Linked DNA regions of Homo sapiens. The protein of the gene in region 1 interacts with the protein of each later gene in a pairwise test. Each region holds a gene or a part of one and is shown in the gene's direction. Other genes may lie near its edges.

Region 1 (7,033 bases):
ACTTGAACCCGAAAGGCAGAGGTTGTGGTGAGCTGAGAGTGCTCTATTGCACTCTAGCCTGGGCAACAAGAGCGAGACTCCATCTCAAAAATAAAAAATAAAAACAGCTGGGCGTGGTGGCTCATGCCTGTAATCCCAGCACTTTGGGAGGCCGAGGCAGGCGAATCACCTGAGGTTGGGAGTTCGAGAACGGCCTGACTAACATGGAGAAACCCCGTATCTACTAAAAATACAAAAAAATTAGCTGGGTATGGTGGTGCATGCCTGTAATCCCAGCTACTTGGGAGGCTGAGGCAGGAGAATTGCTTGAACCCGGGAGGCGGAGGTTGTGGTGAGCTGAGATCGTGCCATTGCACTCCAGCCTGGGCAATAAGAGCTAAACTCCATCTCAAAAAAAAAAAAACAAAAAACAAAAAAACAAAAACTTGGCTTTTAAAAATACAGAATTAATTCATTTCACCAAATCCTCATTTCTTTTTCTTCTTCTTCTTTTTTTTTTTTTTTTTCCAAAGGGGGTCAGGCCAGGCACGGTAACTCATGCCTATAATCCAGCACTTTGGGAGGCTGAGGCGGGTGCATCGCTTGAGCTCAGGAGGTTGAGACTAACCTGGCTAACATGGCAAGACACTGTCTCTACAAAAAATGCAAAAATTAACTGGGCATGGTGATGTGTCCCTGTAGTCTCAACTACTTGGGAGGCTGAGGTAGAAGGATCACCTGAGCCTGGGAGATCATGGCATTGCAATCTAGCCTGGGCAACAAGAGTGAGACCTTGTCTCAAAAAAAGAGAGAGAGAGGGAGAGAGAGAGTCTCCCTCTGTCACCCAGGCTGGAGTGCAGTGGCACAATCATTACTCACTGCAGTCTTTAATTCCTAGGCTCAAGCAACCCTCCCTCCTCAGCCTCTACAGGAGCACACCACAATGCCTGACCAATTTTTTAGACGTTTTGTAGAGACAGGGTCTCACTATGTTGCCTAGGCTGGTCTCAACTCCTGCTCTCAAGTAATCCTCGCACCTCAGCCTCCCAAAGTACTGGGATTACAGGCATGAGCCACTGCACCTGACCCAAATTCTCACCTCTAGACTTAATCGTGAAGGAGAGTTACCTGTTTTTTGTCTTTTATAATTTCAAAATTACCATAAAAGTAGAAAGTATTTCTTCTTGAATAACAATTATTGATATATGTCTGTTTCTCCACAGAGTGATGACAGACCTAATGCTCTATTAAGTTCACCTGCAACAGAAACAGGTAATAGACACAAAGGTGCAATTAACCACATCAAGATTATAATTCTTTATTTTTTTATTTAAAAAATAATAATAAATAGAGACGAGGCCTTTCTGTGTTGACCAGGGTGGTCTCAAACTCCTGGGCTCAAGGGATCCTCCTGCCTTGTTCTCCCAAAGTGGTGGGATTACAGATGTAAGCCACAGCACCCGGCTAAGATTATAATTTTTTACCAAGATTTTCCTAAATTACTTGTTAGAGAGCTGTGGCTGCTTTTTCTGAGATAGAAATCAGATACAGAATTGGAAACCACTGGGTTTTTTTTTTTTTTTCCCATTTTTAAATTAAATTGGTTGCTCAGCTAGTCAGCCATTTGATATGAATAAGTGAACAACAGCCGTAGGTCTGCGGGAGACTGTTCAATATGATAACATTCATTCTGCCTTTATTGATAACACCAAAAATAACATGACAATGTAAAATACATACAAGCGGTCCTCCTGGTTTCATGATTATTTTCTGTACCAGACTTTTCATCATTAAATAGAATTATTTTATATCATTGCCATGTTTATTTTTTACTTGTTACTTTTGTAACTTGTATGTCTGCTATTATATTTTCATCTCCTTTAATCTCATTTTATTTTTCATGCTAATTTAGTTCATCATTCCCCTGCATATTCTTTTCCTGCTGCTATCCAGAGAAATCAGCCTCAGCGCCCTGAAAGCTTCCTTTTCCGAGCAGGTGTCAGGGCAGAAACCAACAAAGGTAGGTGGTGGTGATTTTAAAAGCCAGGAGCGAGGGGAGGTTTACACAACGACGCTAGCTGTTAGATGGATGCTTTTAAACTTCTGCATATAGTATAAGACAAAGCTATCAGCTCGGCAAAAGCATGTGTCTGTGATCTCACTGATACTAAAGCAGGAAAATCTTATCTGAATTTGTTTGGATGAGAAAGTTTCTTAGTGCCACCTAAAAGCAGGTTATAGAGTGTTTGAACAAATAAAATGCGCTTTCGAGGCTTTAGAGAATGTTCTTTGTCTTGGTAATGAACTCTTTTTCACATTTTTCTATTGATAAAAGCTGTTTTCTTAAAACAATAATTGTTTTAAAATCTACTTTAAGTCTCATGTTCTTTTAGTTAATAATGACAAATTTCTCCCTGGTCCCCAAAGAAGTTACCTGGGAGTGGAAACAAACATTTCAAGTCAAAAATAACAACTTTTATCATGGTGGTGTGTGCCTGTGGTCCCAGCTACTTGGGAAGCTGGCGGGGAGGATTGCTTGAGCCCAGGACTTCAGGGTTACAATGAGTTATAATTAAAAGCACCACTGTTCTCCAGCTTGGCCAACAGAGCAAGACTCTGTCTCTTAAAACAAACAAACAAACAAACAAACAAAAATAAGGTCAGGCGTGGTGGCTCACGCCTGTGATCCCAGTGCTTTGGGAGGCCAAGGCAGGCAGATCACTTGAGGTCGGGAGTTTGAGATCAGCCTGGCTAACGTGGTGAAACCCTGTCTCTATTAAAAATACAAAAAATGGCTGGGCACGGTGGCTCACACTTGTAATCCCAGCACTTTGGGAGGCCAAGGCGAGCAGATCACGTCATTTGAGGAGTTCATGACCAGCCTGGCCAACATGGCGAAACCCCGTCTCTACTGAAAAAATACAAAAATTAGCCGGGTGTGGCAGCAGGCGCCTGTAATTCCTGCTACTCAGGAGGCTGAGGCAGGAGAATTGCTTGAACTTGGGAGGCAGAAGTTGCAGTGAGCCAAGATGGCGCCACTATACTCCAGTCTGGGCGGTAGAGTAACAAACTGGCCAGGCATGGTGGCAGGCGCCTGTAATCCCAGCTACTCGGGAGGCTGAGGCAGAGTCGCTTGAACCCAGGAGGTGGAGGCTGTAGTGAGCTGAGATTGCGCCACTGCACTCCAGCATGGATGACAGTGTGAAACTTATGTCTCAAAAAAAATTAAAAAATAGGCCAGGCGTGGTGGCACGTGCCTGTAATCCTCGCACTTTGGGAGGCCGAGGTAGATGGGATCACTTGAGCTCAGGAGTTCGAGACCATCCTGTGCAACATGGCAAAACCCCATCTCTTAAAAAAATACAAAAAATTGGCTGGGTGCGGTGGCTCACACTTGTAATCCCAGCACTTTGGGAGGCTGAGGCGGGCAGATCACGAGGTCAGGAGATCGAGACCATCCTGGCTAACACGGTGAAACCCCATCTCTACTAAAAATACAAAAAAAATTAGCCAGGCATGGTGGCAGGTGCCTGTAGTCCCAGCTACTCGGGAGGCTGAGGCAGGAGAATGGTGTGAACCCGGGAGGCAGAGCTTGCAGTGAGCCGAGATCGCACCACCGCACTCCAGCCTGGGTGACAGAGCGAGACTCCGTTTCAAAAACAAAAACAAACAAACAAAAAAAGGCATGGTGGTGCAGGCCTGTAGTCACAGCTACTTGTGGGGCTGAGGCGGGAGGATGGATTGAGCCCAGGAGGTTGAGGCTGAAGTGAGTCAAGATTGCGCGATTGCACTCCAGCTTGGGTAACAAAGTGAAACCCTGTCTCAAAAAAACAAAAAAAACACAACTTACCTTCAATGTTACCAACAGATGCATTCACAGTAAGATTTAAAAGTCAAACTACAGATGCACTGCTGGTGAGAGTGTAAGAAAGCATGGAAGACTGTTATCAGTCAGCCTCTGTACCCACAGATTCTGTATTTATGGATTCAACCAGTCATGGACAGAAAAATCTTCAGAAACAAGACAACGATAATAAACAATGCCACAATAAAGAAATAATACTAATTTTGAAATACAGTATAGTAACAATTTATATAGCATTTACATTGTATTAAGTATTGTAAGTAACAGAGATGATTTAAAGTATAGTATAAAGGAGGATATGCATAGTTTGTATGCAAATAATACTACATTTTATATGAGTGACTTGAGCGTCCACAAAGTTTGGTATGAGAGAGGTGGTTTCTGGAACTAATTTCCCCTGGATACTGACGGATGACTGTGTACCCTATGACCAGCAGTTTTACTTTTGAGAAATATGTACACACGTGTACCAACAACGTGTACAAAAATATTCATAGCAGCATTATTCATAATAGCCTGAAACTGAATGTCCATCAAGAGAATGGATAAATGAATTGTGGTATATTTGTACAATGGAATACCATATAAGCAATGAAAATGAACCAATTCCTATATACAGCAACATGGATAAATCTCATAAACTTACCATTGATCAAAGGAAGCCAGAAGCAAAAGAATACATACAATACAGCATAATTTATACAAAGTTCAAAAATGAACCAGACCAGCCTACAGTGTTAGAAGTCAGGGTGCGGTTTTGAGCACGTTGGGTACTTATGGGCAAGGAGCATGGAAGGGGCTCCTGGGATTGGTAAGATTGCATTAAAAACCTGATTGTGTTCACTTGGTGAGGAGAATTTTTTGAGCACTGTGCTTACGATTTGTGTATTTTTCTGTGTATTAATTTTCAATAAAAACATTTTTAAGTGGATGTAATCAAACAAAAGTAGTTGAGTCAACTGGGTAATGAACATTACATATTTTTCTATACTATTCTCTGTTGTGTATATTTGAAAATCTCCATAATAAAAACCCTTTTAAAAAGTCAATCCAGAAAGTGGAAAGCAATATACTGTACTTGCAGGAAGTAGAAACCAATATACTGTACTTGCAGGAAGTAGAAAGCGATGCACTGTACCTGCAGGAAGTAGAAAGCGATGCACTGTACCTGCAGGAAGTAGAAAGCGATACACTGTACCTGCAGGAGGTAGAAAGCGATGCACTGTACCTGCAGGAGGTAGAAAGCCATGCACTGTACCTGCAGGAAGTAGAAAGCGGTGCACTGTACCTGCAGGAAGTAGAAAGCGGTGCACTGTACCTGCAGGAAGTAGAAAGCGGTGCACTGTACCTGCAGGAGGTAGAAAGCCGTGCACTGTACCTGCAGGAGGTAGAAAGCGGTGCACTGTACCTGCAGGAAGTAGAAAGCGGTGCACTGTACCTGCAGGAGGTAGAAAGCCGTGCACTGTACCTGCAGGAGGTAGAAAGCGATGCACTGTACCTGCAGGAGGTAGAAAGCGATGCACTGTACCTGCAGGAAGTAGAAAGCGATACACTGTACCTGCAGGAGGTAGAAAGCCATGCAGTGTACCTGCAGGAGGTAGAAAGCCATGCAGTGTACCTGCAGGAGGTAGAAAGCGATGCACTGTACCTGCAGGAGGTAGAAAGCGATGCACTGTACCTGCAGGAGGTAGAAAGCGATGCACTGTACCTGCAGGAGGTAGAAAGCGATGCACTGTACCTGCAGGAGGTAGAAAGCGATGCACTGTACCTGCAGGAGGTAGAAAGCGATACACTGTACCTGCAGGAGGTAGAAAGCCATGCAGTGTACCTGCAGGAGGTAGAAAGCCATGCACTGTACCTGCAGGAGGTAGAAAGCGATGCACTGTACCCGCAGGAGGTAGAAAGCGATGCACTGTACCCGCAGGAGGTAGAAAGCCATGCACTGTACCTGCAGGAGGTAGAAAGCGATGCACTGTACCTGCAGGAGGTAGAAAGCCATGCACTGCACTTGCAGGGAAACTGTGATGAGGCAGAGCCGGATGTTCTCCTAGCACTGCCAGTTGCCTTTCTGTCTTACATATTAATATTTTTATAGGTCATGCTTCACCCCTTCCTCCATCTGCTGCACCTACCACTGATTCTACAGATTCCATAACAGGACAGAATTCAAGACAGAGAGAAGAAGAGCTGGAATTAATAGACCAACTGCGTAAAGTATGTACATTACCTTTGATTTACACTTTTTCAGTATTACTGCTATAGATCATAATCCTGTGATCACGTCTTCATTTGACACATCATTTTTATTTATTTTTTTTTTAGACGGAGTCTCACTCTGTCACCCAGGCTGGAGTTCAGTGGCATGATCCTGGCTCACTGCAGCCTATGCCTCGTGGGTTCAAGCAATTCTTCTGCCTCAGCCTCCTGAGTCGCTGGGATTACAGGCGCCCATCACTGCACCCAGCTAGTTTTTGTATTTTTAGTAGAGAAGGAGTTTCACCATGTTGGCCGGGCTGGTCTCGAACTCCTGACCTCAGGTGATCCACTGGCCTCGACCTCCCACAGTGCTGGGATGGCAGGCGTGAGCTTCCGCGCCCGGCTGTAATTTTTAACAGATTAGTGCTGGGATTGCAGGCGTGAGCTTCCGCGCCCGGCTGTAATTTTTAACAGATTAGTGCTGGGATGGCAGGCGTGAGCTTCCGCGCCCGGCTGTAATTTTTAACAGATTAAATGAGTGCCCATTGTGTGCCATGTTTTGTGATGAATGTAAACATTTTGCTATTAAGGAAATTCTTTTCAGCTATTTACTTAGAAAATGAGATAGATGGCTTATTCTATAAAGCTCAATTCCTAGCTCTACTCATTTAAATTTTTTCCTTTTTTCTACTTCCTGTTATAAAGAAATATTGTCAGTAATAATTTATATGTGTGTGCACACATATATAAATATCACACTTACACATATATAGTGAGTGATTGCCTCTTTATTTTATGTTGGAATTGAAGGAGAATCTAGGTTTTTTTTTTTAATCAGAAAGTTGTAAATGAATTTTTGTTGTACTTTGTACCACTATGCCCTGGCTGCCGTCCATATATATTAGATCTCCTTAAGTTAAACTTAGGATAGAGGGATAAAATGGATATTGTGGTACTTATTTCCTTTTTATCTTGATTTTTAATTAGATTTCA
Region 2 (6,799 bases), on another chromosome or scaffold:
AGATAAAAGAAAAACCTAATTGTTAAGTAATGAAAATTGAGCTAGGAATGAAAGATTGATATGAATGAAATGCCCAGTACTAGTAGAAAAGCAAGGATTTTTCTTTTCTTTTGGCAAGGAGAATCAAATGTTACATACTTTGCACTTCATTGGATTTTATTCTAAGAGAAATCTGATTTCAGAGTAAGTAAATATCTTTAAGGGAAAGTTTATGCTTACTGTTATAAGGTTTTTTTTGTCATATGGTTGTCTAAATGTTGTTAATATCTATGTCATTGTGGTCATTTTAAATCCTAAAATTTGTTGGCAAAAGAAAAAATTTTTATATGGCTTCTACTTTTTGTGGAAATAGTGATTAAACTGACAAATGTCTACATCCTTCAGATTTTTGAAATTACTGTTTATTTTGTTCTATCATAAATAGTTGAATAAAAGTTACTGTACAAATTTGAACTCTTTACAGGAAGAATATAAATCTAGTAAATAATAGTAGTTTGTTTTCCTGCCGTGTGAGTTTATTTTAGGTTACTGTTACAGTGATTTGTGGGAATCTGACAGGGGTTTGTTGCTGGTAGTGGTGGTGGTAGTGGTATGTGTGTGTTTGTGTTGGCAATGCTAAGAAACATCTTAAGGGAAAGACAATTCTAAGAAGTAACACTCTGAATTTTATTAATTTGTAGGCAATAAATATTTTCATTTTGTTTTAAATTTACTATTAGGGACCTTTCTTCTTTTTAAAAAATTATTGGGGTATATTTTAGGATTAAAGGCTCTTTTCTTTTCCCTTGAGCTGCTGGTATAACTTTCCTTGTTCTGTGTAATAGCTCAGCAAAACCCAGCAGCTCAGATTCCTGCCAGGCAGCGGGAGATTGAAATGAACCGACAGCAACGCTTCTTCCGCATCCCATTCATCCGCCCTGCCGACCAGTACAAAGACCCTCAGAGTAAGAAAAAAGGCTGGTGGTATGCCCATTTTGATGGACCATGGATTGCCCGGCAAATGGAACTCCATCCTGACAAGCCACCCATCCTACTTGTGGCTGGTGTGTATGATTCACATGGAAAACAAATTATAGAACAAAAAAGATCATAAACTCTCTGAATGAAACATTCTAATGTATAATATAATAATTTATTACATTTCAGGGTTGAGGGATGGAGTCTTGCGGTTAAATCACATTTCCAGTTCAGTGAGGATTAACTCATTTATAATGTGAAATTGCTTGGATTAAATTATGTTCTTAGCACATAGAAACTTGTCTGTATCCTAAAAACCTTTCCATTTGTGTTTCATCATATCCATTGATTTGTAGTGGCTTGAGGAAATGTAGCATTTTTATTAACTCTGGTAACTTGTTTGATCAATAGCAGTGTTTATTAATATTGAAAGGGTCCTTGATGGGGGACAAATTTTAATTGTTTCTGGTGATTTTATTAAGCAGATTTCCATCTTAGAGAAAAAGTCTTAGGAAGTTTTCAAATCTATGAGAATTAATAGGTATTTCAGGCATACAACTGGTAAGAAATGGTCCTGAAGAGAGAGATGGTAATTTTCTGATATCTCATGAATACAGGTAAGGACGACATGGAGATGTGTGAGCTGAATCTTGAGGAGACTGGCCTGACTCGGAAGCGTGGTGCTGAGATCTTGCCAAGACAGTTTGAAGAAATCTGGGAACGCTGTGGAGGCATCCAGTACCTTCAGAATGCGATTGAGAGCAGACAGGCTCGGCCCACCTATGCAACAGCCATGCTGCAGAGTCTGTTAAAGTAGATGTTGCACACCAGCCTTACAGCTGGGAGCCTTTGCCATGGTACTTAGGTAGGGTGTGTGCCCCCAGATTTAACCATTCCATAATCATGTTAGAGTTACTTCTATAAAGTGAACAGATTTTATTAATCACGGCTTTTGGTGAATTTGTTTAAGGTTAATTATGGTAGCAAATTTTGGACCTAAACATTATTTTTCTGTATCCCGCTGTAATTCCCAAAACTCTCATTATTCTCTAACTATTACACATGGGCATATTCTGATGTTTCTCATCCTTTGCCAGAAGACTACCTTACATCCATCGTAATTGTTCTCTAGGAAAAGAGAACTTTTTTCAAAATTCAAAATACTTTTTAAGGATGGCACAGTACCATATAACTGGAGTAATAAAACATGAGCTTACATTCTTACAATAACTAAACCACTTAAAATGATCAAGGCACTAATGTTTTGGTCTGAAAAGCTGTGTACTTTATAGACATTTTCAGACATTTTTGGAAATTTCCATTAAAGGTGGAAAATCTATTTTTTTCCTCCTTTGCAGTGTCTTAGTTTGAATGAAACACTTCGAAGTTCTAGAATTCTAGAAAGAGCCTTAATGTATTTGATGTATTCTGTGATAAGAGGTACTAATAGTATCCAGCACAGATTTGCTTTTCTTTGCTAGCACAATGTGTGTTGCTGTCAGAATATTCTTTTTATATTCTGTGGAAAAATAAAGGAAATTCAGATTGTTTAAATGCCTAAAAGTTTTGAGATAAGTTTTGTTTCAATTAGAAAAGGAAATAGGTTTTAGGTGGCATAGTGGCTTAACTGGACTGAATTCAAATATTCTTTCAACTTCATCTCAATAGTGATTTTTGTATCAGAATCTTGTCCAAGTTGTTTCATTGATTTAGTAAGTGTTCTGCTTCCAACATCTTTCTTTTTAAGAAATTCCTAGTGTCTTTTTTGGCCTTTGAGGTTTTGGTAATTGTAGACCTGTTTCATAAGCTTTGTAATTCAGAAATCCTTGTATTTAGTAAGTGCTTGTTTTACATAACTGATAATTTTAAAATGTTTTCTTTGTGTGCTGTTAGTATTGATTCAAATGTCAGCAGCTTTAAGCCTAATATTTATGACTTTCACATTTGGAATTTAAAGACAAAAATACATCAAGGAGTTATGCTGACATAATTCTAAGGAGTTTTGTTGTATTTTAGAATAAAATTATAAAGTAAAATGATTCTCTGTACTGCTTTTTCCCCCAGTTTTTAGAGACCCTAACCTTTGAAATGAAATTCCAGTGATTTCTTTTTTCCCTAGAAAGATTACCTCAGTTAGGGAAGTATTTCCCAGCTGACTAGTGTTTGTGAGCCACAGACACTGTCTTCAGAATTGCTTCTCTCATGTCTTAGTAGAGAAATATTTATTTATTATGATACATTCAAATGATTGTCAAGTTAAATTAAATGGTTGTGTCTGTGCTATTGAGAATGCAAATGTGATTATCTTTTGAAGGCTGTATTACTGCATAGCTTCACCCACCCTCGGGTCATTTCGTCCCTGTGATTGGGGACAGAAGGTGTAGCTACTGAAGTAAATGACCTATTCTCTCTCTTCCATCTCTCGCCTTTAACTGGTGTTTTTATTTGTGTAGGATAGTGAATGATAAGCTTTTTTCCTAACCAGTAGTGAGTAAAGTTCTTGAACAAAATTTAGTAGCCAAATTGTTTTTTAATGACATGTCTCTTTAGTACAATAGTTTTGTGTATCTTTTAGATACATTAATAGGCACTAGATGGAAAATTAAAGAGTTAAACATATTTAAATGAGAGAATCTAATGTTTCAGAAATTTGTAAGAAATGTATCACAGCAAAGGGTTGTTATAAGTCCTTAGTTTTTGACTCTAATAGTTAATACAATTATAGTTAATCTTAAGCCATAATGTTTCTAATCATGTCACACAGCTGTCCTAGAACTTATCTATTTAAAATAGTTTCCTGAGTTAATTTTGGCCAGCAGGGCAACTGCCCTAATTCAGATAGATTTACAGTAACCTACGTACAGTAGATGCACATACACACAGACACCCCTTTGCTGGAGAAACTTAGGACCCTGTCAGCCTTTTAAAGGAAACAGCAGGAGTGGTGTCCTAAATGATGTTCATGCAGCTGCTTTACCATGTTCACAGTCAAGCCCATGCATGCCAGGTTAAAACTGTGGAAATCAAAAGTAAATTCACTCATATTTTAATCATTTTAACTGAGATTTAAAATTAGAAGTTTAAACCACTATATATAAAGAACTAATCTTTTCTTAATACCAGTTCTTTCCATAGCATATGCTTTGCAAAGGCAGCATGCATAAAATATTTAAAATGAGAGGACAGAATGTTTTCACATTTGATTCAATTTTAATATAATTCCTAATTGTGGTAACACAGTTGAGATATGTATTATGAGTTATGGGAACTAATTGAGAAAAGGAAGTTACTCTAATCCACGTATGTTAAGAGAATATTGAGTTTTCTTAGTTGTAAAGTTGGGGAGATGGCACCTTCTCAGAGGATTGTGAAAATATGAGGAAGAAACAAAACAGTGCATGTAGGAGCACAGGGCCACACAAAGGCATTCTATTGTTATGCTCATTCTGCTTCTGTAATGACTTTTCATAGGTCATTCTTGTGAACCATTTTGTTTTGCAAGCAACCAAGGAAAGAACATCTTAAGTGGAAAATCAGTGGTGGTTGTGAACACTTAGAGAATAGCAATCCACAGGCAAGAATAATGGTATTGTTTGTAGAGCTTTATTAATTGGATATTTTTTAAAAGACATTTTCATTCACAGGTCATTACTATGGTTCTCAGCGATCCAAATATGTAGATCATTGGTTTTTTTTTTTACCTGAAGTAGCTTAAGAGTACTTGGATCAGTAGAATAAATATTTATTGAATCAATCAGTCAGCCAATTAATATGATGTTAGTGATAGACCTGCCTCCTTTTATGGAAGAGGTAACAGATCCAGAGAGGTCAAGTAATTTAGTTGTAGACTGAAAAATATATCAAAGCCTTTGCTGCAATCATATGTAACAAAAAGAACCAAAACAAACACTTTTTAGTGGCACCTGTGGATTTACAAAGGGTTGCCTCTCTGTCATTCCACAACTTCAGAAGGTGTGACAGGTTTTCCCTATTTATCATTACCAATAATAACAAGTATTGAGAGTTTTAAAATTTCTCCCAGAAGATAAACTAACAAGGATGGAAGGGGAGGGCAAAGGATATCTAAACATGAGAATAAGGACATGTTAGAGGGGGGGAAACAGTTGTAACAATAAGGAAAGAGAAGAGCAACAGTGGAAGAGACAGGTTGTGTGCCCCTAAAGATTCTGCACCCCCAGTTTGGAAACACTGATACATTTTAGGACACAGAGCACTCCTAGATCTCTACGAAATTTTAGAATGAATAATGTGTAATTTATAGGATCAGAACGTATGGTTATTAAAACTTGGATCAAGATATGCCCGGTGTATACATTCTTAGCACATAGGAATGGCACTGCCATACTGGAGAAGGTCAGCAGTAAATAGGCATTCTGTACATAAGCCTCATGGAAGGGTAAGATGGAGAGACTGGCAGAAGTAGCACCTACTCTGCTGGGAGCACTTCTCTGAGTACGCTTTAGTTCAATTCAAATCACTGTATTCTTTCCCCATTGCTAACCTAATATATGAAACAAGCTTAGCTGTCTCAGAAGTTTTTCAAGAGATGATCAGGAAAAATTAATGCACATTCAAAAGGAGAATCTTCAGTACAAATTTGTTTTTTTAAAAATAGATTTAGGGCTGGGCGCGGTGGCTCACGCCTGTAATCCCAGCACTTTGGGAGGCCGAGGCGGGTGGATCACGAGGTCAAGACTTCGAGACCAGCCTGGCCAACATGGTGAAACCCTGTCTCTACTAAAAATACAAAACATTAGCCAGGCGTGGTAGTGGGTGCCTGTAATCCCTGCTACTTGGGAGGCTGAGGCAGGAGAATCACTTGAACGCGGGAGGCAGAGGTTGCAGGGAGCCGAGATGGCGCCATTGCACTCCATCCTGGGCAACAAGAGCGAAATTCCATCTCAAAAAATAAAATAGATTTAGGGGGTACAAGTGCAGTTTTGTTACATGGGTATATTGCATAGTGGTAAAATGTGGGCTTTTAGTGTACCTAACACCCAGAGAAGCATACATTGTGCCCAGTAGGTAATTTTTCATCCCTAAACCTTTTCTCAGCCTCCCACTTTCTGGAGTCTCCAATGTCGGTTATTCCACTCTTTATGTCCATATCTACACATTCAATCCTAATTTGTACCAAGTAGCATCTCACCTTTAAATCACAGGCTTATTAGTTGGGTGTTTTCTTTTTACTTATGAAAATTCATCTAGTCAAACTGTCAATTAATTTTTCCTCATTTCATTAAAAGTGTATATCTAATGCTTTCTCTAAAAATTGATGTACTGGAAATACAAATAAATAAATGCTCCCTGTGTAGAATTTCCACTTGCATCTTGTGCTTTTAATACCATTACAGGGTGTCATGAACAGGTTGTAAATGTTGCACTTATTGCCGTGTTTCAGATGGAATAAGTTGGCGAATTCTGGGCTCCTGAAGCTTGATCCAGTCGCTAGGGCTGGAAGCACTGTGTTAGGTGGCTGCAGGAAGAAGCAAGGAACTCAAGGTGATTGAAACTTCTTTGGACATAGGCCCCAAATTTCCTATGTGATCTCCATCCAGGAAACAGGCAGGATTCTGTGTGAGTGACAGCTACTCATTTTGTAGAGATTAGAGACACACCAAATTTTGGCTGCCTTTCTCCAGACCGTTACTAATCTGTGAGAAGACACAGGATGTAAAAACTGGGGACCAAAAGAAGGCTCCTTCTCCCTAAGGCCTTGAATATAGCTGGTCCATTCCCTGTGTCAAGAACCTACCATGATCCTGCTGGGTCCTCTGAGAGTGGAAGGAGACTCTGTCCATCTCACCTCATCAGCTCTTCC
Region 3 (7,285 bases), on another chromosome or scaffold:
GCAAGTCATGTCTTACGTGGATGTCAGCAGGCAAAGAGAAAAGCTTGTGCGGAGAAACTCCCACTTTTAAAACCATCTGGTCTTGTGAGATCCATTTACTATCACGAGAACAGAAAGGGAAAGACCCACCCCCTGGTTTAATTACCTCCCACCAGGTCCCTCCCACAACACGTGGGAATTATGGGCATTACAAGATGAGAATTGGGTGGGAACACAGAGCCAAACACTGCTCCACCAGAGTGTCAGGACAATCTGTCAAGACCTTGCCCCTGGAACCAGATCTTATCCTAGATTTTGGTGAAAAGGTCCCAAGAAAAAGAACAGTCCAATAACCAGAGAATGAGGTACACTTCCTGGTAAGCCTGCTAGATTCCTTTACAACAGGGACACCTCTGTGGTTGGTGATCCTACTGAAGTGACAAGATGTAGGCCTTACACCAAAGACAGCCAAGCTCTTGAAGAAATTGGCTCACTGACTCCTCCATTCAATCATTCAACAAATATTTACTGAGCACCCAATAAGTGTCAGGAATTTTGCGAGAGCTAGGATTCAGGGATGGAAACAAACAAACAACAATAACAAAATTCCCTCTCTGCCCTCGAGTAGCTCTCAGTCTAAAAAAATGATGCAGTATAGAATTAAGGTTTAGGCACAAAATTCTGATTCACTATGCTTTAGTAAAATAATATCACTGGGCTTCAGTTTCCTAATCTGTAATATATTCATGACAATATGACCTGCTTGAGGGTTACTGTGAGAATTGAGTTAGTAATTTCAAAGTACATGGGCAGTGTTGAGCGCACAGTGCTTAAAAGTATCTTAGAGATTTTTCTCCAGTAGAATGACAGCCCAATTGTTTATTCACTTATGAATGAATGAACAGAATACTTGAGTCCCACAGATATAAAATTTCACAGGAAAAATCCAAGGCACATGTCCTAGTCTGTTGTTACTTCTATAGTGAAATATCTAAGACTAAGTCATTTCTCAAGAATAAAAATTTATTTTTATTCTTATAAATTCTTATAAATATTAATAAATTATAAATTTATTTTTATATAAAAATTTATTTTTATTCTTGATAAAAGTCCAATATTGGAAGTTCAATATAAGGGCACTAGGCACCAGTCACGGTAGCTCACACCTGTAATCTCAGCACTTTAAGATGCCCAGGCGGGAGGATCTCTTGAGGCCAGGAGTTCAAGACCAGCCTGGGCAACACAGTGAGACCTTATCTCTATAAAAAAATCTAAAAAAATATTAGCCAGGCATGATGGTGCACACACATAGTCCCAAGGTTGAAGACTGAAACCTGGGAAACACTGGGAAGTGCTCTGGAGAACAAAGTTGAGGTTCCAGTTTTAAAGAAAAAAGGACTAATCAGGAAACGGGTGACTACGAAAGTTGCTTGTTAGGAATTCTCACTGGTTTACAGAAATAACATTGATTAGTTATTGGTTGTACATTGTTAAACTATAGGGAATGAGTTATGATGTCCAGTGTACAGCATTGTTAGGTTTATTTATAGCCATTGGTGGCAACACGCAGTCTAGGGTCCATACGGCAGGCAGCTTTGAAACGATTACTTAGCTTAAGGGGATGGGGGACTGGAACTTGACTGCTGTCACATTTCAGTGCCTCTCTGGGCCTGATAATTTAAAGGGTGCTCCCATTCCTCAGATAGAAAGTTTATTTTCTTTCTCATCACTCTTAAACTCTCAATCTTACTCTTGAACTCTCTAGTTGTCAAAGGGGCTGCTGTGGTTTGAATGTTTTTGTCCCCTCCAAAATTCATGTTGAAATTTAATCCCCAATGTAGCAGTATTAAGAGGCATAGCCTTAAGGAGGTGATTGAGTCACAGGGGCTCCACCCTCATGAATAGGATTAGATGCCCTTATAAAAGGGATTGCCAAATGGAGTTCACCCCTTTTCACCTTTTCTATCCCTTCTGTCATGTGAGGACAGAGGGCTCCTTTCCTCAGAAGAATGCAGCAATGAGGCACCATCTTGGAAGTGGAGACCAGGCTCTCATCAGGCACCCAACGCACCAGCACCCCGATTTTTTTAGACACAGAGTCTCACTATGTCGCCCAGGATGGAGTGCAGTGATCATGGCTCACTGCAGCCTCGAACTCCTGGGCTCAAGCAGTACTCCCACCTCAGCCTCCCAAGTAGCTGGGACTATATATATTAATTTTACCTCAGTTTCTTTTTTTAAGTCAACAGTGAGTAGGTCTGAGAGTGAGGATAGAAGCTTAGAGCCAACATGTCAAATACCTGGGTTGCAATTGCTCTTGAGAACTTTCTGCGGTTCTGGAGTGGCTCCCTTTGTCTCCTGATCCAGAGGCTGAGATCCTTTATTATTTTTTTTTAATTTTTATTAAGAGACATCGTTTCTTTGTGTCACCTAGGCTAGAGAGCAATGGCACAATCCTAGTTCACTGCAAGCTGAGATCCTTTATAGTAGGCCTGACCTCATGCTTTTGTCAGCTTAGAAACTAATCTTTCTGCCCAGTAGTAGCTTCCTTCTAGAAGCTAGATCCTTTTTAGCCTTGATGAACCCCTTGTTGTTAAAATGCACAATTCAAGCACAGGCGAATTTGCTAAACTTGCCTGCTGCTAATAGCATTTCATCTCCTTTGTGAGTAATCAGACATCAGTGCTCAGTGTCACGTGTCAGTGTCAGCGTGTCAGTGGCACGACCACAGATGTTTACCCATATTGTCATCATCATGTGGAAATAGAGAAGTTTCAGCTTTCAAAGGTGAAGTCATCTGTCTGATGCCACACAGTAATAAATCTGTGTATTTAATCTATGTTTCCAATGCCAGAGCTAATACTGTTCACCTCACACTAACCTGCTTTCAGAAAAATAATAGTGGATGTCAGGTAAGTTTATAGTTTGAGTGCCTTTTGGGAGGCCTCCTTGGAAATCCAAATATTCAGGGAAATAGTGCCTGAAATCCCACTCTTCCAGTTCAGTTCCTTTGGCCTGGCATTTAAGGCCCCCATTACCCCCGATCTAATCTCTCATTCTTACTGTTCGAAGATCCCTTCTATCTAGCTCTCTTTATTGCCAAACTGATGTTTCTGCTTCCCCCCATCACCTCACTCTGTTAGACTTTCCTGCCTCTCTGTCCAAGTTCATGACCTTGTCTCTACCTGGCAAACTCTAATAATTGCCAGCTGTAAATGCTTAACAGCTATTCGCTAGAAAAATTAATTTCTTTGCACTCAGCATTGCTCTAGGAATCTTCTTTTAAAATGCAAACATAATACACACATCAAGATAAGAAGCACGCACTCCATACTGTTTAAAACGACTGGGATGGGAGAAGGTTTTACCTTTTACATATTGCCCCCCTCCTTTTTCTGCAAATGGAGTAAAGAATAATAATTACTTTCATAATAATGGTACCTTTTAAAGATTCTTGGGAAGCTAACGCATTAAAGTGCTAACACTAAGATCTGAGGGTGAATGAGCTTGCTGATGTGCTTCCTAGTTTAGAATGGGAGAAGGCGCGTTGCACACTTTTGGAGAAGGGTCTGGGGAAACGTGAGGGGAGTGTGGGGCTGTAGGAGATATACTTCCTACATTTTACAATTAAGAGAGTGGAGAATAGGGAAATTGATGGAGGGGGTAATGGGTGGCGTTTCTGGAAAGCTTGTTAGCCGGAAACGAGTGTTGGAGAGTGACTTTAAAAAGCTGGAATATGACAACGACAACGAATCTTTATAGTGAGCCTGTTGTTTTCATAGTGTCTTTCATTCACTCAAATTATCTAATTAAAGCTTCACAGTGATCCTCTTAGGTTATTTCTCATCTTACAGATGTGCAAACTGAGGAGAAGGAAGTGTAAGGTCACGCCGCTGGTAGAGTTGGGGGCCAAATCCAGATCTGTTGGCTCTGGAAGCTGTAAATCAAACACAAAAAGGAAAAAGTCAAAGGCGGTCTGGAAGGCAAGCCTGGAAGGCACAGAAAAGAGAAGCGTCCTCATACTTTGTTCACTCTAAACCATTGATTCAGGGAGAGGGAAGCAGTCTGTGGCAAGTCGGAAGTGCGACGAGGACGAAGACTGGGTTTGGGTTGGGGAACCCCTGTCTGCTGAGCCCCTTCACTGCGGTCTCCTCTGCTTGCTCCGCGGAGCTCAGGAAACGCGGCTTGTTTTGGTCCCGCGCGGCCGCCGTAGAGTCCCCGTTGCCATGGCTCCTGAATTCCGACGGGGACGCGCTGAGGAGCAGGGGTGAAGGGTGAAAAGCGTCATTCGAGGTCCGGGTCCGGCTTGCGGGGTCAGCGAACTGGAGAGGCGCCATGGGCTGGAGTAAGCCCCCCTCCACCTTCCGTCCTCGATCGTTCCCCTTGTGGAAGTAGTCCCGGGTCTCGTGGGATCCTCGCCGCCCGCTCCCGCCCTGCGCTGTCGGTTCCCCCGCGCCTGGGCGGACCCTAACCCCACCCGGCCCTCCGCACCGCAGCCCCGGCTGCACCAGGTCCTCTGCAGACTGGCCGGACAGCCTGGCCTTTTCCAGCTCAGGTTCCTAATCTGTAAAATGGGCGGGGCCGTGGGAAGGGGAGGAAGAGGCAGAAAGGCACTGGACTCCAGGAAAGGGGTCGGGGAACGTGCAGGGGTTTTGGCGCCAGACACACCACGTTCCGGCCAAGTGGCTCCTTACTGGCTGTGAACGTGGGCCAGTCACTGTCTCCAAGCCGCAATCTTCGGACTCATTCCGGAAGGCAGTGTAGCCTAATGGTGGAGGGTTCCGACTCTGGAGCCAGGGTTGAAGTCCTCCCTCTTCCTGTGACTTTGAGCGAGTGACTTCACCCCTTGGGCCTCAGCTTCTTCATCTCCAAAATAATGGCAATCATACTACTGTTTTAGACACAGTAAGTGTTATAAACGTGTTTTTGTTTGTTTGTTTGAGACAAGAGTTTTGCTCTGTCGCCCAGGCTGGAGTGCAGCGGCGCGATCTCGGCCCACTGCAGCCTCCGCCTCCCGGGTTCAAGCAATTCTCCTGCCTCAGCCACCTGAGTAGCTGGGATTACAGCGTGCACCACCACGCCAGGCTAATTTTTGTATTCTTAGTAGAGACGGGGTTTTGCCATGTTGGCCAGGCTGGTCTCGAACTCCTGACCTCAGGTGATCCGCCCGCCTCGGCCTCTCAAAGTGCTGCGATTACAGGCGTGAGCCACTGCGCCCGGTAGTAAACGTGTTTCTTTAAGAATATACTAACAAACTGCAAGGTGATGCGGGTAAGTTATTTATATTGTATGAACCATTTTGATATCGACAACGTTTTTGAGCTCCCCATATGGCAGTTTTGTACAGCTCTACCTAATTGATCACTTATCATTGTAAAAATGTCATAATTAACTTTTTTTAAATCAAGAGACTGCTCCAGATGATGGGCTTTCTGCCCTGGAAGACCTGACAGCCTGCAAGTGGGAGAGGTGGGGGTCGGGGGGGAGTGATTTGTAAATGTTGAAACTCCTTTCCTAAATCAGCTACTGATATTTCTTCCTCTCTTCTCAGGGCTGTCTCCCCATCCCCTGGTCTCACCCTAGTTGGTTTTTTTCTTCTTCTCCTTCTCCTCCTCCTCCTTCTCCTCCTCCTTCTCCTCCTCCTCCTTCTCCTCCTCCTCCTTCTCCTTCTCCTCCTCCTCTTCCTCCTCCTTCTCCTCCTCCTCCTCCTCCTCCTGCTCCTCCTCCTCCTGCTCCTCCTCCTCCTGCTCCTCCTCCTCCTGCTCCTCCTCCTCCTGCTCCTTCTGCTCCTGCTCCTCCTGCTCCTTCTCCTCCTTCTCCTTCTCCTTCTTCTTCGCTTTTTTATGTCGGGAATTTTCCTTTGCCCTCTTTCTCTGAGTCGTGCCCACTTTGATTTGTTAAATCATTAACTTGTCAGACTTGCATCGGAGTGTCTACCTTGAATCAGGTATTGAATGCAGGATACAGTGAGGAAGGAGGCAGATGTGGGCCTACCCTCCTAGGGAGGGAGAAGACAAACAGAAGTATAGTGGTTACAGCCAGGAGAGAGAGGGGTGCCTGTGCCCTGAGGGTGTGGGTAGGGGACCTAACCCCAAGGTGGGTGGAGGCTTCTCTGAGGAAGCAGTGCTGTCTGGAAAGGAAACAGGAAAGCTCAGTGAATTGCCCAGAGGTGAGAAAGAGCAGGGCTTCTTGGTGGCTAATTGTCACTGACAGGAACTGGTGTGAGACAGAAAGAAGGAGTGGAGAGCAAAGAGATAAGGAAGGCCTGACAGGTAGGCAGGGATCCGCTCATACAGGTTTTGTACTTAGGATTTAGAAATTTATCAAAAGAGCCACAGAGAAACCAAAAGGTTTTGTTCATGGGCATAGCTTGGCCCTATAGGAGTTCGAGTGGGAGATAGTAGGCTGAACTGAGGTCGTGGCAACAGGACAGATGACAAGCACTCCTCCAATGAGTAGCTCTGATGTGCCAGGCTTGGTTAACATGCTTTACCTGCATTCTCTTGTTTGATCTTCCCAGCAGCCTTTTAAGGCAGGGAAGGATTACTGACATCTCTATTTCTTTGGTGAGGCACAGAGAGTAAATCACACAGTAACTATCAGGGCTGGGAACAGAACCCACGAAGATTTCCTCTGGGTCCTGCATTACACCGCACTGCCGCCCACAGGACTGAGGCGAGTGGACAGATTTGAAAGATGTGGGTGGAGAAAGTGGTCCTCTTTTGCTGTGCCACAAACCCTTTTTACATGTTCTCTCTCCCCCGTGCTTCCCAATAAATGGCCTTCTGCCTCTTGCTAACATCTCCTGACTGCTCCTGTGTGCCCTTTTTTCCGCTGCCTTTCCTGTATTTTCCAAAAAAAGACGCAGGGATGTCATTAGTACAGGTTTTAGAGAGACCGTGCTCGAGAGTTCATCTAGTGTACCTGTTCATTTTAGAGATGAGGAGGGGAACATTGATTCAGCCAGTGTCACATCCCGTCAGTCAGGAGAGACGTCGAACCTAGGATACGAGCTTCCCGGCTTTCGCGGCTCTTTCCACAATTCTCAACCTCCTTCAACTAAAGGAGAAATTTGGGCTCCTGAGAAAGGATGATAATAATAGCTCACTCACAGTTATTGAGCTGCTTATTGCCTTCTAGTCAGTGTTCTGAAAGTTTCTCTGTGTGTGTACTCATTGAATTCTCACAAAAATCTTTTGAGGTAGACACTAGTATCATCACCTCCATTTTGCAGATGAGGAATCTGGAGCACAAAGAGGTTAAGCAGCGTGCCCAGTGCCACACAGTAAGTGGTATATCTGGGATG
Region 4 (7,526 bases), on another chromosome or scaffold:
TGCACCACTGCACTCCAGCCTGGGCAACAGAGCGAGCCTCCATCTCAAAAAAAAAAAAAAAAAAAAAAAAGACAGAGGTTGCTCTCTGAATGCCTGAGGGATTCAGGGCTGAGTCCACCAACATTGTTTCATGAAACTCTACTCAGCCAGCCAGTGGAGGCATCATGTATACAGTCAGCACTCCACATATCCTCACTTCCTGAGCATCTACAGTGCAAACCGACACACTCATCACACTCAAACAGCACATGCCGCACGTCAACCCGAGCCTCCCTCACAGGTTGCTTTCATCTCTTTTTCTCTCTTCACTGCAAGTTTTTTGCCCAAATGCAATTAGACACTTTTTTTTACAGAGACAGAAACCAAAGAGTTTTAACTAGGCACCACTACAGCAGTGGCTGTTGACCATCGTCTCCTGGCTGGAACCAGGGAATCCTGTGGGTGAGGGAGGAGCAATGCAGCAGCCCCAGCTGACTCACTCTGGGGTGGATGGATGGATTTACTCACTTACTTACTTATTTATTATTTGATTCTTGTTCTGTTGCCCAGGCTGCAGTACAGTGGTGTGATCTCAGCTCACTGCAGCCTGGACCTCCTGGGCTCAAGTGATCCCACCTCAGTCTCCCAAGTGGCAAGTAGCTGGGACTTCAGGCACATGCCACTATGCCAGCGAATTTTTTAAACTTTTTGTAGAGACAGGCTCTCACCCTGTTGCCCAGGCTGGTCTTGAACTCCTGGCCTCAAGCCATCTGCCCATCTTGGCCTCCCAAAGTGCTGGGATTACAGGTGTGAGTCACCACACTCAGCCCACTCAGTTTTGAGTGGCCATTTGCTTTGACTCAGCAAACACTTCTGATGGTAACAAAGCACCAACTGGGTGGCTGGTTTCAATCCTACTCTTGCCACCCAACACCGCAACATTTTATCAACCTGGAGCAAATGCTCTCGGGTCCTGAGGAGCTGGCCACACAGCCCATTTTGCTGGTGGGACAGTGGGAAGCCCCGCCCTCCTCCCATCCCACACCACTTAGGCAAGAGCTGTGCCTAGGAAATGTCACCCGTAACTGGTCCGCACAGACCCTGTCTTCTAAAAGGGTGCTGTGCCTCCACCAGACCCCATGAGCAATACATTTGTCAAGCACACGCAAGACATGCCAAGGCCAAGGCCTGACTGATTTGACAGTAAAGACACAATGAGCCCCTCTCATTCAGACCTTATTACTCACAGAGTGAAAATAAGAGAAGCCTGAGGTGGCAGCTCCCTGCTGTCCTGGTGCCACACACTAAAAAGGACAACACTGAAACAAAAGGGGTCAGAGAGCATGCGTTGCGGGACACCCACTGTGGAGGAGCCCCTTGACACTGCAGCTGGGTGGCGTCCTCATCTGCAGCTCTGTTTTGAGGGCCGGGGGCAGGGAGCCTCACCCTCACCAGGGCCAGTGAGGCAGGAAGTGAGGAACAGTCTCGGGAGACAGACGGAGTGAGCGGTGGCCTGGGTGCAGCCTGATGTTCTGGGAGGAGCAGGCTTAGGTCAGGTGCTGTGTGCACCTCTGCATGGCCTATGGGGATCCTGCAATGGCTCAGGGCCCCACAGCAGAGCTGTTTCTCCGCCCACACAACAGACATACAACCTGACACATGAAAACTCACAGAGAAACACAGAAAGGCACATGTGACAAAGAGCCACACAAAAGGCATGCAGCAAAGCCTTTTGACACACGTGCGCGCACACACACACACACACACACACACACACACACAGGCACCCACTCCTTCAAACCTTGGTGTTTGCCCAGACACAGCTGTGTCAGAGACAGGGGACCTGCAGCTCCCCAACACACACCAGTCACCCCACACTAACCCAAGGTGTCACCAGCCAGCCTGGTGGACTCGGGAGGCCAAGTGGAGGTGGACAGTGGCCGCAGAGCAAAGGCCTTCGGTGGATACCACCCGACGGGAAGAGCCATGGGGCCCATCGTGTCCACACACACAGGGGAAACGCACGTCTGCGAACCAGCTCCCCCATTCCTACACATATATCACCCATCCCTGGGGCTCTGGAGGATGAGACCCCTCCTTCCAGACCAGGCCCTCCCTGAAGACCCAGAGGTGGCCCAGGAGTCCCCATGCCTGAGTGACATACTGCTCATGTCCATGAAAAAGAAAAGGAACTTTGTGTGTGTGTGTGTGTGTGTGTGTGTGTGCGCGCGCGCACAATGGAAGTTTATATATATATGTATAAAGTATATATATATATTCATATATATATTCTTTTAAGTTCTGGGGTACATGTGCAGAACGTGCAGGTTTGTTACATAGGTATACACGTGCCATGGTGGTTTGCTGTGCCCATGAACCTATCATCTACATTACGTATTTCTCCTAATGCGAAAGGAACTTTTTTATCTGAGGAATGTGAGCTCCCTTTAATTATCTGGCCCAGAGAGGCACTGGAATGAAACAGCAGTCACATCCCACTCCTACTTGAGCTAACGACCTCTTGAAGCCAATTGCTCTGTGGGTTCCAGACTGACACCAAGTAGGCATAAAAAGCCATACGCTGGACACCATAACTCTTACCCAGTAGTCCAACACCTTATAGCCAGTCACTAAGGGTTCTCTCTGGAAAGCAGTCAGAATTCCTGCTGACTTCATATCAGCCCACTCCTTGTCCCCTTCAGTCTTTAAAAACTTGCTTGTAATAAGGCTGAATGAAGCACTCCCAGGGCAACTTGGTGTGTCCTGGGCAGCTCTCTCAGCCTTGGCCCAGACAAACTCTCTATATGAACTGTGGTTCAGTTTGTTTCTTTAGGTTGACATCCACATTAGGGGAGCAGTGTTGCTGGGCTGGGGAAGCTGGTTCAGGTCAGACGTTGCACCAAGGGTTGGAGAAGGGGCCTTCCTGCATCAGCACCCGGACAAGGCAGAGGAGCAGGTGTCCAAACCCAGGCCTGGCCTGCTCCTGCTGTGGCTCACAGCCCCCACCCCACCTGGCAGACCCCGGAGCTGGCGACAGTGTTGCCCAGCTGGCCACAGACATATCATCACGTGGGGCTGCCCTATATCCTCCCAGTCTCCACACAGACACTCTTCATGGACTGGGGGACTGAGGGCAGGGACACTGGTGAAACAGGCAGGCGTCTTCACCCAGCTAATCATCCCACTCACCACCTCCGGGGGAGGTGACAGTGACCAAGCCCAGCCCCAGCTGGCTCCTGGTCACTCACTACAGACTCAGCTCCCACAATCTCGAGTCCCACCTCCAGCTCCTGCCATTCTGAGGGACCTGGAGGCCAGGGTGCCCGGCGCATGACCAGCTCTGGGTTGTGGACCGCCCTCCACGGCAGTGGCCTGAGCGCTTGTCATTATTCACTTTATTCATGCCTGGTTTCTGTCTGGAAGGGACCACAAGGACATGGCGTGCAGGGGAGCCAATCCTGCCAGGGACTGAGGAAACAGATCCTGGAGAAAACCAGACACTTTGCTGGCACTTCAGGGGGACCCCAGTTGGTTGGCTCAACGCCCCCTCTTCCCCATAGCCAATTACTAACCAATGTTCTCTCTGGAAACCAGTCATAATTCCTAACCTGGTCAAAGCAGGGTCATCTCACACAGCCCAGCCACCCAGCAGGCAGCTAAAGAGTGCCTGATGAAATGCAAGTCTGATCGTGTCTGCGTCCCCAAGCCCTTCCGTGCCCCCTGCTGCTCTATGGACAAGCCCCCAGCAGCCTCTGTAATGCACAGCACCCGCCCTTGTCTCCTGTGCTGGCTTCCGCAGCCTGGCCACACTGGTCCTCTCGCCCACCCACCTGACCTGACTCTGGCAGGGCCTTTGCAGGAGCCATTCCTCCACCCGAGCCCCTCCTATTAAAGCCTGTTCCTAGACGGTTCAGCCCCAGCCACCAGAAGCCCCCCAGCCCCGGCCCAGCAGCTGGCCTGTGGAGCGGGGAGAGCGCAGTCTGGGCTCACGGGCTGGGGGCCACGGAGGCCCAGATGGGGACTCTGGCTCCGACTGTCCTGACCCAGAGGCTCTAGGGCGGTCCTGTCTGTCTCACCCCGGGGGCGGGGAGGACGCAGACAGACCCCAGCGCCACTGCTCGGCCGCGGATGGTGCCTTAGACCCAGGTCCTGTGGGCTCTGGCCCGAGACCCCTGCCTCTGGGGAGGCCGGTGACCGGGACAGTCCACCTCGCAGGCGCGCCGGCGCGGAGCCCGGACCTCGGCCCGCAATGACTCAGCAAGGGCCGGTGGGATTCTCCGTGGTCCTGCGATATCCAGACGGCGGAGTCTCGCCTTTAATGTCGCGCGGGGAGCAGGCAGGTGCGAGCCTGGGCTGAGCAAAACCCTCCTTGGAGTCTCCGCAGAGGAGCGGGGCGCGCCTCCTGAATAAGCAGGCGGCGGGGCGCGGGGCAGGGCGGGGCAGGCGGCCAGGCCCTCTCGGGACTGTCGTAAAAGGGGGCGGAGCGCGCCGCGCGTGGGACAATCGTAAAAGGGGCGGGACGCGCCGCGCTCGGGATGTCGTGAAGCTGGGGGAGCTCGTCGCCGCCGCCGGCGGCTAGCGGGCGTCCGCGCCATGGAGCGCTACGCGGCCGCCTTGGAGGAGGTGGCGGACGGTGCCCGGCAGCAGGAGCGACACTACCAGTTGCTGTCGGCGCTACAGAGCCTGGTGAAGGAGTTGCCCAGGTACGCAGGCGGGGCGGGCGGAGGCCTGCGGAGGCGGCTTCGTTTCCCGCCGGGGCTCACCGCGCCCCCCTACCCGCAGCTCTTTCCAGCAGCGCCTGTCCTACACCACGCTCAGCGACCTGGCCCTGGCGCTTCTCGACGGCACCGTGTTCGAAATCGTGCAGGGGCTACTGGAGATCCAGCACCTCACCGAAAAGAGCCTGTACAACCAGCGCCTGCGCCTACAGAACGAGCACCGAGGTGCGCGGGGGCAGCGGGATGAGGTGCCGCCTCCTCCGGGTCGGCGCCTCCGGGCAGCTCTTGGTATCTGTGCAGATCAGCTCCTTCCTTGGAAGTGTTCGGAAGAGGTCTCTAAGATTGACAAAATCAACGGGCGCAGAGACTGAGACAGCGCCTTTTTGGTGATCAGTGGGTCCAACCAGTTTTGTTTTCAGTTGCGCAGCACCCACCTTCTTAGCAGAAACTCCCTGTTCGGGCTTCCCTGTGCCCCACGCGCTTCCAGACAGGATGGCCCTAGGCCTCGGTGCCTGATTGGCCTGCAGGCAGACTCTGGTGGTGGCGCTGACTGCAGCAGCATTGCCCCTCAGTAGTTGGAAGTCTGTTGACAGTTGTGCAGCAAGCGTCTTTCAGGGTCAGTTCCCTCTCAGGCCTCGCAGGGCCTCATTCCAGTTGCACATCAAATTCCTAAGCACTGTCTCCTGTGGCGCCCTCCCAAACCCGAAGAGCTTCCCACTTGAGCCAGGCCTGCTTGGTGGGCTTGGGAGCCCTTTCCTGCAAATTATATAGGGCAGGTCCCCCTGCACCATCAGTTTCCACCTTTGTTATTTTTCCCAAACTTCTTATTTTAGAAGTTAAAACATTTAGAAAAGCTGAAAAGATAGTATAGTGCATACGCTTGTGCTCTTCACTAAAGTTCAATAGTTAACGTTTTGCTCTAGTTCTTGACATCCCAAAATATATACATGTGACAGCATAGCATTCACCAAGAGTCTTCAGCATTCCTGGAGACCAGGATTTTCAACCCAGCCATGCTGACATTTGTGGCTGGGTAAGTCTTTTTGGTGAGATGCTGTCTTGCGCATTGCAGGATGGCAGGGGTACCCTCCCTAGTCCTGAAAACCAAGAATGCCTCCAGACAACCTGGGTGGTGGGGTCAACCTTGGCCTTGGATTGGGAGCAAGTGCTCTAGAACAAAACTGGTCTCCTACACAGCTGCAGAAGGTAGCCCCCTGAGAAATTAACTGTTCCGGGTGTCTCCTGACTTTCAGTGCACGGCCACATCATGGTACCTAACTTGTGGCAAATTGTTGCTTTATAAGTAAGGATCCAGTCCAAGTTCATGTACTACAATTGGTTACTTTGGTCTCTTTGCTTCTGAAACAGTCCCCAACATTTATTGTGGCATTGACTTTTTTGTAGAGTCCAGGGCATTCTAATTTTATAGAATGCCCTGCTCTTGATCTATCAGACGAAATGCTTCCTCTTGCATTTAACCTGCTTCTCCACTCTCTGGGTTTCCTGTACACTGGACTGCTGGTAGAAGCCTGATTAGAAGCAGGTTTAATGTGGCAAAAATTTCTCCTAGCAGTGCAAGGCCCCCTTCCCCAGAAGGCAGGCAGTGTCCATCTGCTCCAGGATTGGTGTGTTTTTATCAAGAATGGATGTTGGATTTTGGCAGTTCCCTTTTCGGCAGCTCTTGAGATGATCACGTGGTGAATCATTTTCTATTACTACAGTGAATTACAGTCACTTGAATTCCATCCTACTGGGTCGTGCTGTAGTATCCTTTTTATGTATGCTGGATTTGATTTGCTAAAATCTTAAGAATTTTTTGGTCTATGTTCATGATAAACTGTGGTCTATAGTTTTCATGTAATATCTGGTTTGGGTATCAGGGTTTTTGCCAGCCTTATAGGATGAGTTTCGAAGTGTTCTCTCCTCTTCAGTTTTCCAGAAGAGTTTGTGTAGAATTGGCATTACTTCTTCCCCTAAATGTCTGGGCGATTGTCTTTTTAAAATTTTTTATTGAGCTGTAAGATGTATGTAGTTTACTAATCCCAAGCGCATGGCTCATTATTCCTTAATGCCCAGACTGTGCCATGTGTGGCCAGTTGGGGGCGCTCCAGGCACCTTTAGATGCCGCCCCATCATTCTGTGAGCACTTTCTTGCTTTCTGGTTCAGGTATGTGTTCAGGCTCATCTTTTCTTGTTTTCTCCGTGTCTCAGTCCTGGAATCGGCCATTTTTCCACAGAGCTATAGTTCCTTATAGCAGGATGGGGAGTTTTAGTAACTGCCTGGGCCCAATGCTGTTTGTGCTTCAGAAGGTTTGGGCCAGGCCCTGGTTCCACCAGCAGCAGGCATGCCTGCATTGACTTTCTGCTTCTCCTGCTGATTTGGCAGGGGCGACTGGCTGCTCCTGCCTCCTTTGTGTTCCCTGGTCATGTCTAAGGCCAGGCCCCTTCTGCCCAGGCAGCCAGCGTGGCTCTCTTCTTGCCTTTTGGTTGTCTATCTAGTGGAATCTGGTAGTGGACCTGGCACTTGTAGCAATGTTTGATCAGTAGAGTGAAGGAGATGACATTTCCCTGCTTCCCTGTGTTATGGAGCTGTCTTGAGGGGGGCTTTTGGTAAATACCATCGTCGAGGTGTGTACAGAATGTGAAGAGACAGGAGATCGGGGAAGGCTGTAGGCACAGCGGGAGCCAGGCTACCTGCAGGGGAGCCTCAGGGGCCCTGGAGTTCCCTGGGGACTGGCCACCAGAGAAGAGCTGCAACATCAGGGCTCTTCCCAGGAACAGAGTGTTGGGTTTCACCTTTTCTTTTGGCCAGGGACCCCTCCCTCCTGG

The links.
Region 2: the proteins of LRCH3 (region 1) and MYO6 interact in binary tests that used the Homo sapiens proteins (3 or more experiments, as listed by UniProt).
Region 3: the proteins of LRCH3 (region 1) and DNAAF11 interact in binary tests that used the Homo sapiens proteins (3 or more experiments, as listed by UniProt).
Region 4: the proteins of LRCH3 (region 1) and DGCR6L interact in binary tests that used the Homo sapiens proteins (3 or more experiments, as listed by UniProt).

What each region holds. Positions count from the first base shown.
Region 1 is NC_000003.12:197,864,221-197,871,253, forward strand, and holds part of LRCH3 (DISP complex protein LRCH3), read left to right. Parts: intron 1-1,202; coding exon 1,203-1,251; intron 1,252-1,891; coding exon 1,892-1,999; intron 2,000-5,939; coding exon 5,940-6,058; intron 6,059-7,033. UniProt on the Homo sapiens protein: As part of the DISP complex, may regulate the association of septins with actin and thereby regulate the actin cytoskeleton.
Region 2 is NC_000006.12:75,913,239-75,920,037, forward strand, and holds the end of MYO6 (unconventional myosin-VI), read left to right. Parts: intron 1-824; coding exon 825-1,043; intron 1,044-1,574; coding exon 1,575-1,774; 3' UTR 1,775-6,299; downstream 6,300-6,799. UniProt on the Homo sapiens protein: Myosins are actin-based motor molecules with ATPase activity. Unconventional myosins serve in intracellular movements. Myosin 6 is a reverse-direction motor protein that moves towards the minus-end of actin filaments.
Region 3 is NC_000008.11:132,672,523-132,679,807, reverse strand, and holds the start of DNAAF11 (dynein axonemal assembly factor 11), read left to right. Parts: upstream 1-4,262; 5' UTR 4,263-4,314; coding exon 4,315-4,324; exon of another isoform or gene 4,325-5,250; intron 5,251-7,285. UniProt on the Homo sapiens protein: Involved in dynein arm assembly, is important for expression and transporting outer dynein arm (ODA) proteins from the cytoplasm to the cilia. Acts as a crucial component in the formation and motility of spermatozoal flagella.
Region 4 is NC_000022.11:20,317,035-20,324,560, reverse strand, and holds the start of DGCR6L (protein DGCR6L), read left to right. Parts: upstream 1-4,500; 5' UTR 4,501-4,572; coding exon 4,573-4,682; intron 4,683-4,761; coding exon 4,762-4,922; intron 4,923-7,526. UniProt on the Homo sapiens protein: May play a role in neural crest cell migration into the third and fourth pharyngeal pouches.